2 separate regions of the Homo sapiens genome follow, and region 1 is linked to region 2. Evidence: fine-mapped expression QTL. A gene starts in region 2. The other region holds a variant in brackets. All regions are shown on one strand. Distances are between the middles of the regions.

What was found.
Region 1: its variant is fine-mapped to the expression of SUPV3L1 in lung (TOPMed, PIP 0.91).

Annotation. Positions count from the first base shown.
Region 1 is chr10:69,126,746-69,131,745 of GRCh38, forward strand. The region is part of intron 1 of VPS26A (VPS26 retromer complex component A); the gene reads left to right. Among named protein-coding and RNA genes, the nearest start is that of VPS26A, 5.1 kb to the left of the region's middle. The variant A/G (reference allele first, on the strand shown) is at 2,552.
Region 2 is chr10:69,178,125-69,183,124 of GRCh38, forward strand. SUPV3L1 (Suv3 like RNA helicase) reads left to right here and starts at 2,110. Exons shown (of 15, transcript NM_003171.5): 1 at 2,110-2,438. The coding sequence starts at 2,168. RefSeq lists an enhancer at 1,825-2,194.

The DNA of each region.
Region 1 (5,000 bases), 51 kb before region 2:
TTAATTTCATTACCCTTTATTTCAAATGACAGAAGTTGCACATCTTAGAAAAAACTTTGAAAGAGAGACTTTGGGTAGAGATCTTTCTCTTTCAGTTCTTTCTAAAAGACAAGCTTTTTTCCTCAGTTATTTTTTTCTTTTTGTTCTCTACCTGTAAAATGTAAGATATCCACAATTTTCTGGAGGTGTTTTTTAGTAAGACTAGTTCTTTTATTATTATTATTATTTTTTGAGACGGAGTCTCGCTCTGTCGCCCAGGCTGGAGTGCAGTGGCGCGATCTTGGCTCACTGCAACTTCCGCCTCCTGAGTAGCTGGGACTACAGGAATGCGCCACCACACCCGGCCAATTTTTTTTTTTTTTTTTTTTTTTTGTATTTTTAGTGGAGACGGGGTTTCGCCATGTTGGCCAGACTGGTCTCAAACTCCTGACCTCAAGTGATCCGCCCGCCTTGTCCTCCCAAAGTGTTGGGATTACAGGTGTGAGCCACTGTGCCTGGCTGACTAGTTCATTTTCGATATGCCCTAATGTAAAAAAACTGAATGTTGGTCGGGCGTGGTGCACTTTGGGAGGCCGAGGCGGGCGGATCACGAGGTCAGGAGATCAAGAGCATCCTGGCTAACACGGTGAAACCCCGTCTCCACTAAAAATACGAAAAATTAGCCAGGCGCGGTGGCGGGCACCTGTAGTCCCAGCTACTCGGGAGGCTGAGGCAGGAGAATGGCATGAACCCGGGAGGCGGAGCTTGCAGTGAGCCGAGCTAGCGCCACTGCACTCCGGCCTGGGCGAAAGAGCGAGACTCCATCTCAAAAAAAAAAAAAACCTGAATGTTAACCCAATGCCATATTGTCATGGAATAACTGGTTAAAGTGCAGTAATTTATTACTCAACCTATTACTTTTTTGCATATGCTATACTAGGCTTTTTAAAAATGCCATTTGATTGCTTCCAATTTTAGTGTTTTGATTGTATTTAAAAATATCTTTTTTTTTTTTTTTTTTTTTTTTGAGACAAGCTCTTGCTCTGCCGCCCAGTCAGTGGCTTACTGCAGCCTCGACCTCCTGGGTTCAGCCTCCCAAGTAGCTGGGACTGCAGGCACACACCACTATGCTGGGCTAATTTTTTAAATTTTTGTAGATATGGGGGTCTAGCTGTATTGACGAAGCTGGTCTTGAACTTCTGGGCTCAAGTGATCCTCCTGCTTCAGCTTCCCAAAGTGCTAGGATTACAGGTGTGAGCCACTGTGTTCTGCTACTTTTTTTAAAATTATGAAATATTTCTTGCATCCAGAAAATAATAGAGGATAGCACGTAGTTTTTCACATATTTTTAATGGTTAGGAATTTAAATATTTAAGGAATGGTGTCAAAACACTGTTTATCATTATGGTGTTAATTGTGAAATTTTATAAAATGAACTTGGTTTATACCATTTTAATTGGTGGCAATTTTAGTTCTATCAAAATTTTATTTAACTTTGGGATTTGATTTTTTTTTTTTTTTTTTTGAGGCAGAATCTCACTCTGTCGCCCAGGCTGGAGTGCAGTGGCAAGATCTCGGCTCACTGCAACTTCTGCCTCCTGGGTTCAAGCGATTCTGCTGCCTCAGCCTCCCGCATAGCTGGGACTACAAGTGCATGCCACCACGTCTGGCAAATTTGTTCTGTTTTTGTAGAGATGGGGTTTCACCGTGTTAGTCAGGATGGTCTCGATCTCCTGACCTTGTGATCCTCCTGCTTCGGCCTCCCAAACTGCTGGGATTACACGCGTGAGCCACCGCGCCTGGCGATTTGATCTTTTAATGTCAGCTTTCAAATCCCAAGTGGAACTCTGTGTGTTTAGGTATATGCATGTGGAAAAAAGTTATAATATTTCCTTTTCTCTGTAAAACAATTTTTATAGTTTTCAAATCTCATTTTTCTTTTAAGTAGCTCTGGGAAGTGTCAGGAGGAATGAGAAAATTAATTTTAAGGCCAAGCAAGGTGGCTCACGCCTGTAATCCCAGCATTTTGGGAGGCTGAGGCGGGTGGATCACTTGAGCCCAGGAGTTTGCGCCTGGCCTGGGCAATGTGGCAGAAACCCTGTCTCTACAAAAAATATAAAAACGAGCCAGGTGTTGTGGCTCACGCCTGTAGTCCCAGCTACTTGGGAGGCTTGAGGTGGGAGGCTTGCTTGAGCCCATGAGGCAGAAGTTGCAGTCAGCTGAGATCATACCACTGCACTCCAGCCTGGGTGACAGAGTGAGACTCTGTCTCAAAAAAAAAAAAAAAAAAAAAAAAGAATTAATTTTAATTTTTCTATCTCTGTTTTATAACTCAAATGAGTTATAAATGTGGATGTCATAAGGAAGGAGAGCTCATTCTTATTGCTCTCTCTGCCAATTAGCATTATCCTTCAATATAACTGATTTTGTTTTCCATCTAAAATAGACTGCTACTTGAAGATGTTGTCTTCTACCCTTTCATGATTGCTCCTCCCACACAACCCCTGTACCCTGCTAGCTCAGCACATATTCGATTAGTAAATGTGAGCTGCATGATTTTAAGCTGCTATAC[A/G]TTCTCATTTCTGTAGCCCTTAGAGGAAATGTACTACAGTATTTCAGAATTTACCATTTTGAGTTTAAGACTTGGAGTACGAAAGCCACCTAGGAATGGACAGTGTGTGTGACCTATCACTGATGATTTTCATTCTCTTTTTTCTAAATTAGTTCAGAATAGTTTTCTGATTAAAATTAGTTTTCTGGTTAAAATTCGAGTTTGTTATTTGTAATTTTGCCAGAAAAGATTAAAACGTGTCAAAAAGAAAAAAAAATTTTTTTTTTTTTTAAACAGAGTCTCACTCTGTCCCGAGGGCTGGAGTGCAGTGGCGCGATCTCGGCTCACTGCAACCTCCACCTCCTGGGTGCAAGTGATTCTCCTGCCTCAGGTGCATACCACTACGCCCAGTTAATTTTTTGTATGTTTAGTAGAGACGGGGTTTCACCGTGTTAGCCAGGCTGGTCTCGAACTCCTGACCTTGTGATTCGCCCACCTTGGCCTCCCAAAGTGCTGGGATTACAGGTGTGAGCTACCGCGCCTGGCCCAAAAAGAAAATTTGCTACATATGTCAAAAGTACTAATCTGGTAATTCTTTTAGTTGGTTGCTTAAAATTATAATCCCTTTTGTTAATACAGGATTTAGGAAAACATCTCATTTGAGTATAGCATCACCTTGTGCCCTACATAGCCACAAAGCAAGCTAACAGAAAGCAAACTAATGACTCTCCTAAGTGAGGACAGAACTGAGGTTTAATATAAATTCCATTGATATAGTTTGCTACTATACCAATGCTAATTTGCTCAGAAAGGCTAATATTATTGACTATTCCAGATTTCAGTTAATTTCTCTTGTATATTTGTTTATTTTCTGTTATTAAAATGGTATGTGTTTGTTCAAAATTAACATTCAATAGGTATTTTAATGCCTTCTGCTAAATGCCATACGCTGCCTTAGATGAGCCTCATGGAGTTTACAGTTCAGTAGGAGAGTCAGGTACTAAGTAAGCCTTGTGAAACCTAAATTTGGAGAATCCAGTTTTGATTAGGAAGTCAAGGAAGGTCTCATGGAGAGGGAGTCAAACTGAAACTCAAAGGGTGAATTAGGTTAAGAATACTTTGCTTGGCTCTAAGACAAGAAGGACACTAGCAAATTGGAACTGTTGAAGAAAGAGCTCTGAACGTTGGAGGCTGAGTAGTTGGAGAGATGACTAGTGTCAGATATATGTAGACCACATTAGAGAATACATTGTGTGTGTGTCTGTTTTTAAAATCACAACTGAAGTAAAATAACTATGAAAAAGTACACGAATAGGTGTATAGCTTGATGAATTTTCACCAAGTGAAATACCTCTGTATCAAATGCTCAGTTATAAAAAAAACAGCCAGAACATTACTAGCAGCCAGAAGCTCCCTTTGTGCTTTCTTTCAGTCACTGCCTGACCTGTAACACCATAATGTACCTTACATGTTTTTTGCTTACTATGTGAGTGGAGTTATACGTACGTTTTGTGTATTCCTTTTGTGTCTGGCCTCTTTCACTCAACATTATGTGTATGAGATTCATTCTTGTGTGTAGTTGTATCTCCTCTAATTCTATTGCTGTTTGGTGTTCCCATTTGTATGAATATATACTAAATTGCATATATCCATTCTCTTGTTGATTGATACTTGGATTGTTTCTATTTGGGGCTATTATGAATAACACTTGTGAACATTTTTTTTCTGGAGACAAATTCTTGCTCTGTTGCCCGGGCTAGAGCGCAGTGGTGCGATCTTGGCTCACTGCAACCTCTGCCTTCTGGGTCCAGGTGATTCTCCTGCCTCAGCCTCCCGAGTAGCTGGGACTGCAGGCATGCACCACCATGCCCGACTAATTTTTGTATTAAAGACGGGGCTTCACCATGTTGGCCAGGCTTGTCCCGAACTGCTGACCTCAAGTGATCTGCCTGCCTTGGTCTCTGAAAGTGCTGGGATTACAAGTGTGAGCCAGCGCGCCCAGCCAGATATGTTTTTTAAAGATCATTCAGAGCCAGGTGCAGTGGCTCACGCCCATAATCCCAACACTTTGGGAGGCCGAGGCAGGAGGATTGCTTGAGCCCAGGAGTTTGAGACCAGCCTGGGCAACAGAGTGAGACCCTGTCTCTACAAAAATTTTTTTAAAAAAGATCATTCTGGGCCGGGCGCGGTGGCTCATGCCTGTAATCCCAGCACTTTGGGAGGCCAAGGCGAGTGGATCACGAGGTCAGGAGATCGAGACCGTCCTGGCTAACATAGTGAAACCCTGTCTCTACTAAAAATACAAAAATTAGCTGGGTGTGGTTGCAGATGGCTGTAGTTCCAGCTACTTGGGAGGCTGAGGCAGGAGAATGGTGTGAACCCGGGAGGCGGAGCTTGTAGTGAGCCAAGATTGCACCACTGCCCTTCAGCCTGGGCAACAGAGCAAGACTCTGTCTCAAAAAAAAAATCA
Region 2 (5,000 bases):
CAGGAGTTCTGAGACCAGCCTGGCCAACATGGTGAAACTAAAGAGAATACAAAAATTAGCCAGGTATTGTGGTGCAAGCCTGTAGTCCCAGCTACTCGGGAGGCTGAGGCATGAGAATTGCTTGAGCCTGGGAGGTGGACGTTGCAGTGAGTTATGATTGCACCACTGCACTTCAGCCTGGGCAACAGAGTGAGACTGTCTCAAAAAAAAGAAAAAAAAAAGATTTAGATTTGTATCTGACTCTACCACTTACTGGGGCAAGTTAGTTAACCTGGTGACAATAATACCTCTAAATTGTTGTCAAGCATATTAAAAGATTAAAAGGAACAACATAGTGCTTGCCTCAGTTACGTATTAAACGTTTGGTTTATCCTTCATTCTCCTAGTTTCCAAATCTGACGAGACATCATTGTTTATTAACATTTTCTAGCATATTTAGTCACTCACTACATTATCTAAGGAGTCTTGTAAAACCTCTCATTCCACATACATGGTCTCCATCATAACTCAGACACAGGAATCTACCACCTTCAGCTAGAACTGTTGATAAAGTTGTAATTTTCCTCCCTGCATATTTGTGTTTATCCTAGTCTATCCTAGGTACTTCCTAATGAATGATTTCTCTTCTCAAAAATATAATCACTATTTGTAAGCCATAGAATTAGGTCTGCGTTAACTCTGTTACTTAAATTTTTTTCAGTATGTCTTTTCCTTAGTTAAGCCTCTGCTTACATCGTTTCCACTGACTAGAATTTACTTACCGCTTCTCTATGTTTTACTTTTAAGTCTGGCAGAAATCTCCTTACCACTCTCAAATTGCTCCTTTCTTTGAACTGCCATTAGTCTATTAGAGTAATAAGTGCATTATTTAACGTGTACTGTTCTTACCACCAAAACCAGATCAGAACCTTTGAAAGCAAAGGACTGTCTCCTTGTATCCCTGATGTTTAAAAATTATTTTGTGAATCAAAGGCACGTGGCAAATTGTTACTGGAATCCTATTAGACATACAGTATTGTATATTACATAACACGTTCCTTCAAGTTGTAAGATCTTAATGATGTAAGTATAAAGAGATGTGGATGGAGATGCTAAACTTGTGAATTTTTTTTTTTTTTAGACGGAGTCTCACTCTGTTGCCCAGGCTGGAGAGCAGTGGCCCGATCTCGGCTCACTGCAACCTCTGGCACCCAGGTTCAAACGATTCTCCTGCCTCCGCCTCCCTAGTAATTGGGATTACAGGTGTGCACCACCACGCCCGGCTGATTCTTGTATTTTTAGTAGAGAGGGGATTTCACCATGTTTGCCAGGCTGGTCTCGAACTCCTGACCTCAGATGATCCACCGGCCTCGCCCTCCCTAAGTGCTGCGATTACAGGCGTGAACCACCACGCCCGGGTTAAACTTGTGAATTTAACATGTTGCAGCCTCACATGAGAACACGGTATTCAACAAATGCAATGGAACGAAACTATGGCTGGGGTACAGAGCACGTATTTTTGCCATGTGGTCACAACTATGTGGTCATAGCTGCTAGGATGATGTACGCAAACTGCTCACATTAAAGCAAAAGTACTTACGTAATACAAGGGGTTTAATAGTGCAACAATATTTCTTAGCAACATTTCTGAGGGGCATATCAAGTTATTATCGCTAACGTTATCATATCAGGAAATGACGGTTAACAATGCAAGAAACTTTTGGGAAATGCTATTTAGTGTTTGAGTCCGCAAGACATACTCGTACCCTGAGCATTCGCAGTTGCTGCTCCACCACCCATTCTCTCACTGCTCACCCACGTGCTTCTGGACACTTGCTTACCAAAGTACTAGTTTGCATCACGTGACACGACTAGCAGGCCCCCTCCGCTCATGTATGACATCCCAAAGATGCCTGATTATTTTCCCTTCTTTAGGGAAAGGTGGTCCCAATCACCAACAAAACAGAGAAAGAGAACGAGAATTATCTCTAGTGGTTTTGCCTGCTAATCTTCTTTTTCCCTGAAAGAACACCCTCACGGCACGGCGTTTTCCTTAACGGTCAGGCGTTTTCCCGGGCAGCTTACCTGCTCGGCCTGGGTCTTTCTGGACAGCAGGCGCTGGAGGTGCGCGTCACTGTCCGCCGCCGTGTCCGCGGCTGCGCCAGACAGTGTAGAACCTGCGGCCTCGATGTCCTTCTCCCGTGCCCTATTGTGGGCTCGGCTCCCGGCGGGGCGCCAGGCTGGCCACCGGGCAGCCATCTGCTCTGCCCTTCGTCCCCACTTTGGGCCCTTTCCCGGGGTTCTGGGGCAAGTTTCTGTCCTTGCCACCGCCTCCTCCTCTGCCTCCGGTGGCTCCAAAATACCAAACACGTCCTTGTTCGTGCCCCTGACTGTGAAACCTCAGGGCCCCAGCGCCGACGGCGACGTCGGGGCCGAGCTAACCCGGCCTCTGGACAAGAGTGAGTGCGGGAACTACTGAGGGCGGCAGAGGGTGGTGTCTGCTGGGCCGAGGCTGGTTGGGAGGAAGCTACATCCCCTTCCCCTGGGGATCCGAGGTCCCATCGAGTGTTGTCATCGTGCCTCTCAGTGTCTGCCTCCTTCGCTGGTGTGTGAGCCCCTCAAACGGCTTAGGACTGTATCTGATTAATTCTTAACGCCTCGTCCCAGAAGCGGCCTTTTCCCTTTTACTGCCCTGCTCTCTGAATGGTTTAGACACTCATGTGTTGGGAAGATTTGACTTTTTTGAGTTGTTAGGTGGACGCCCGCTCTTTCTTGCATTCTTTGTTTCTCTCCCACCCCCGAATGGGATGTGGCAGTGAAAAGCCAGCGGAGACTCCTTTTAGGATTCTTTATCATTGAGGAGGCGCCGACTCATACCACGCTGTTAGGCTGTGTGGTGGTTGCCAAGAGGAACCAGACTCAGATCCAGATCCCCTCTTAAGAAACGTAACGGTATCGTGGGGGAGGACACGTGTATGGAAAGTGAACTGTAATACAAGGTAGAACATGACAAGGTCTAGAACAAGGTAGGGTGTCCCCGGCTCCAGAGAGAAAAGAAGAGGTAGCATCAGTTAGTGGCAGCGGGCTTTGCTCAGCAAAACTTAAGTTTGGATGGATTCGTTGACAGAGAGGCATGTGAATGTTTTCAAGGTGAGTTTCGGGATGATTAGGGAGGTAAGGGAGTTTCCTCTGACCATATGAAACTGGGAGATTGAGGAAATGCTATCCAGAATTGTCTCCAGGAATAGGAGGAGAAATGTCTCACTTCAACAAGCGACATTGGTGCCTCCTATTGTAAATCTAAAATATAGACTACAATATGTTTTTCAGAGCAGAAGTACAGTACTTTCACTAAACATGTGATGGAACTCACAGTATATGTTATTCTTTGACATATTCTTCCAGTGTTAAGCAAGGCCTTTCACTTTACTTGGTGCTGGGAGACTGTCTTTATTTTCTGCTGTTATAACATAATACCTGAGACTGAGTAATTTATAAACAATAGAGGTGTATTTGACTCATGGTTCTGAGCCGGGATCTGATGAGGGCCTTTGGCTGCATCATCACATGGTGGAAGGTGGAAAGGCAAATGAGCCTGTGAGACAGAGAAAGGGGGCTGAACTTATCCTTTTTTCCTGTGATAACTGACTCCTGTGATAATGGCATTAATCCACTCACAAAGGCAAACTCCTCATGTCCTAATCACCTCTTAAAGGTTCCACCTCTCAACTGTTAAAATAGCAATTAAATTTCAATATGAGTCTTGGAGAAGACATTCAAACCATAGCAGAGAATGTGTTATTTTAATAATGTAATTATACTATTATTTATTTTTAAATTATAAAAATACATAAAATTTACTCTTTTAAGCTTTTTTTTAGTTTTTTTTTCTTTACTTTTTTTTTTTTAGAGACAGGGTCTTGCTCTGTTACCCAAGCTGGAGTATAGTGGTATGATCATAGCTCACTGTAACCTCCAACTCCCAGACTCAAGCAATCCTCCTGGCTCAGCCTTCTAAGTAGCTAGGAATACAGGCGTGCATCACCATGCCTGGATAATTTTTTAATTTTTTGTAGAGATGGGGTCTTGCTATGTTGCCCAGGCTGGTCTCAAACTTCTGGGCTCCAGGGATCCTCCTGCCATGGCCTCCCAAAGCCCTGAGATTACAGACCTGAGCCACTGCACCCAGCCAGTCTTAATTGTTTTTAAGCACATAGTTCACTAGCGTTAAGTATATTGACATTGTCGCGAAATAGATGAGAACTTTTTCATCTTGCAGAGTTGAAACTCAAACAATAGTTTACCCATTAAAGAACAATTTTCCATTATTTTATATTATTTGAAGGCATAAGGTAATTTGGATGAGATAATTTGCCTTATTGTATTCAAATATTGATAAATTCTTATTTTCTGCAGCTATTCCAATTCACCTGAAAATGTAAATGTCTTTGCTGCTTCCTGTAAGAAGATAGAATAAAGACATGGGTTTGTCAGCACTAGATTTTCTTCTGGTGGAGAATCCTTAGATACTTCATTGGGTCTGTGTGCCAGGTGATTTTTCATCTCCTTTGACTGGGATTGGTCCAGATGTTGAATTTACTAGAATGATTTTTCAGCATGGCAGGAGGGGCTACAGAAGATGGTGCATTACTACACTCTGATATAGCCATGTGGTTAAGGTGTCAGATTTCCACTTAGCTTAGCAATCAGGACAAGAAGCTGTCACTTCTCAATCTCTTTTGCCTACTCATAACCCAAAAAGTTGAGGTACTTAAAGGCTTTGTCCTGCGTCACCTTGCTGCCTTATTCTGTGCTGTCTATGGGGTGTCTCATTCTCTCTCTCCCCTCACTAATTCAGTATTCCTCTCAGATCTTTGTCTCTACCCTGGACCTCTCTCCTTCACCCTGGACCTATATATCTCGCTGCCTACCAGGTGTCTCCACTTGTCTTTCTTACACACACCTCACCTTAGCATGTCAAGACAACTTACCTTCCCCTCAGCCTGCTCCTGCAGGTGCTC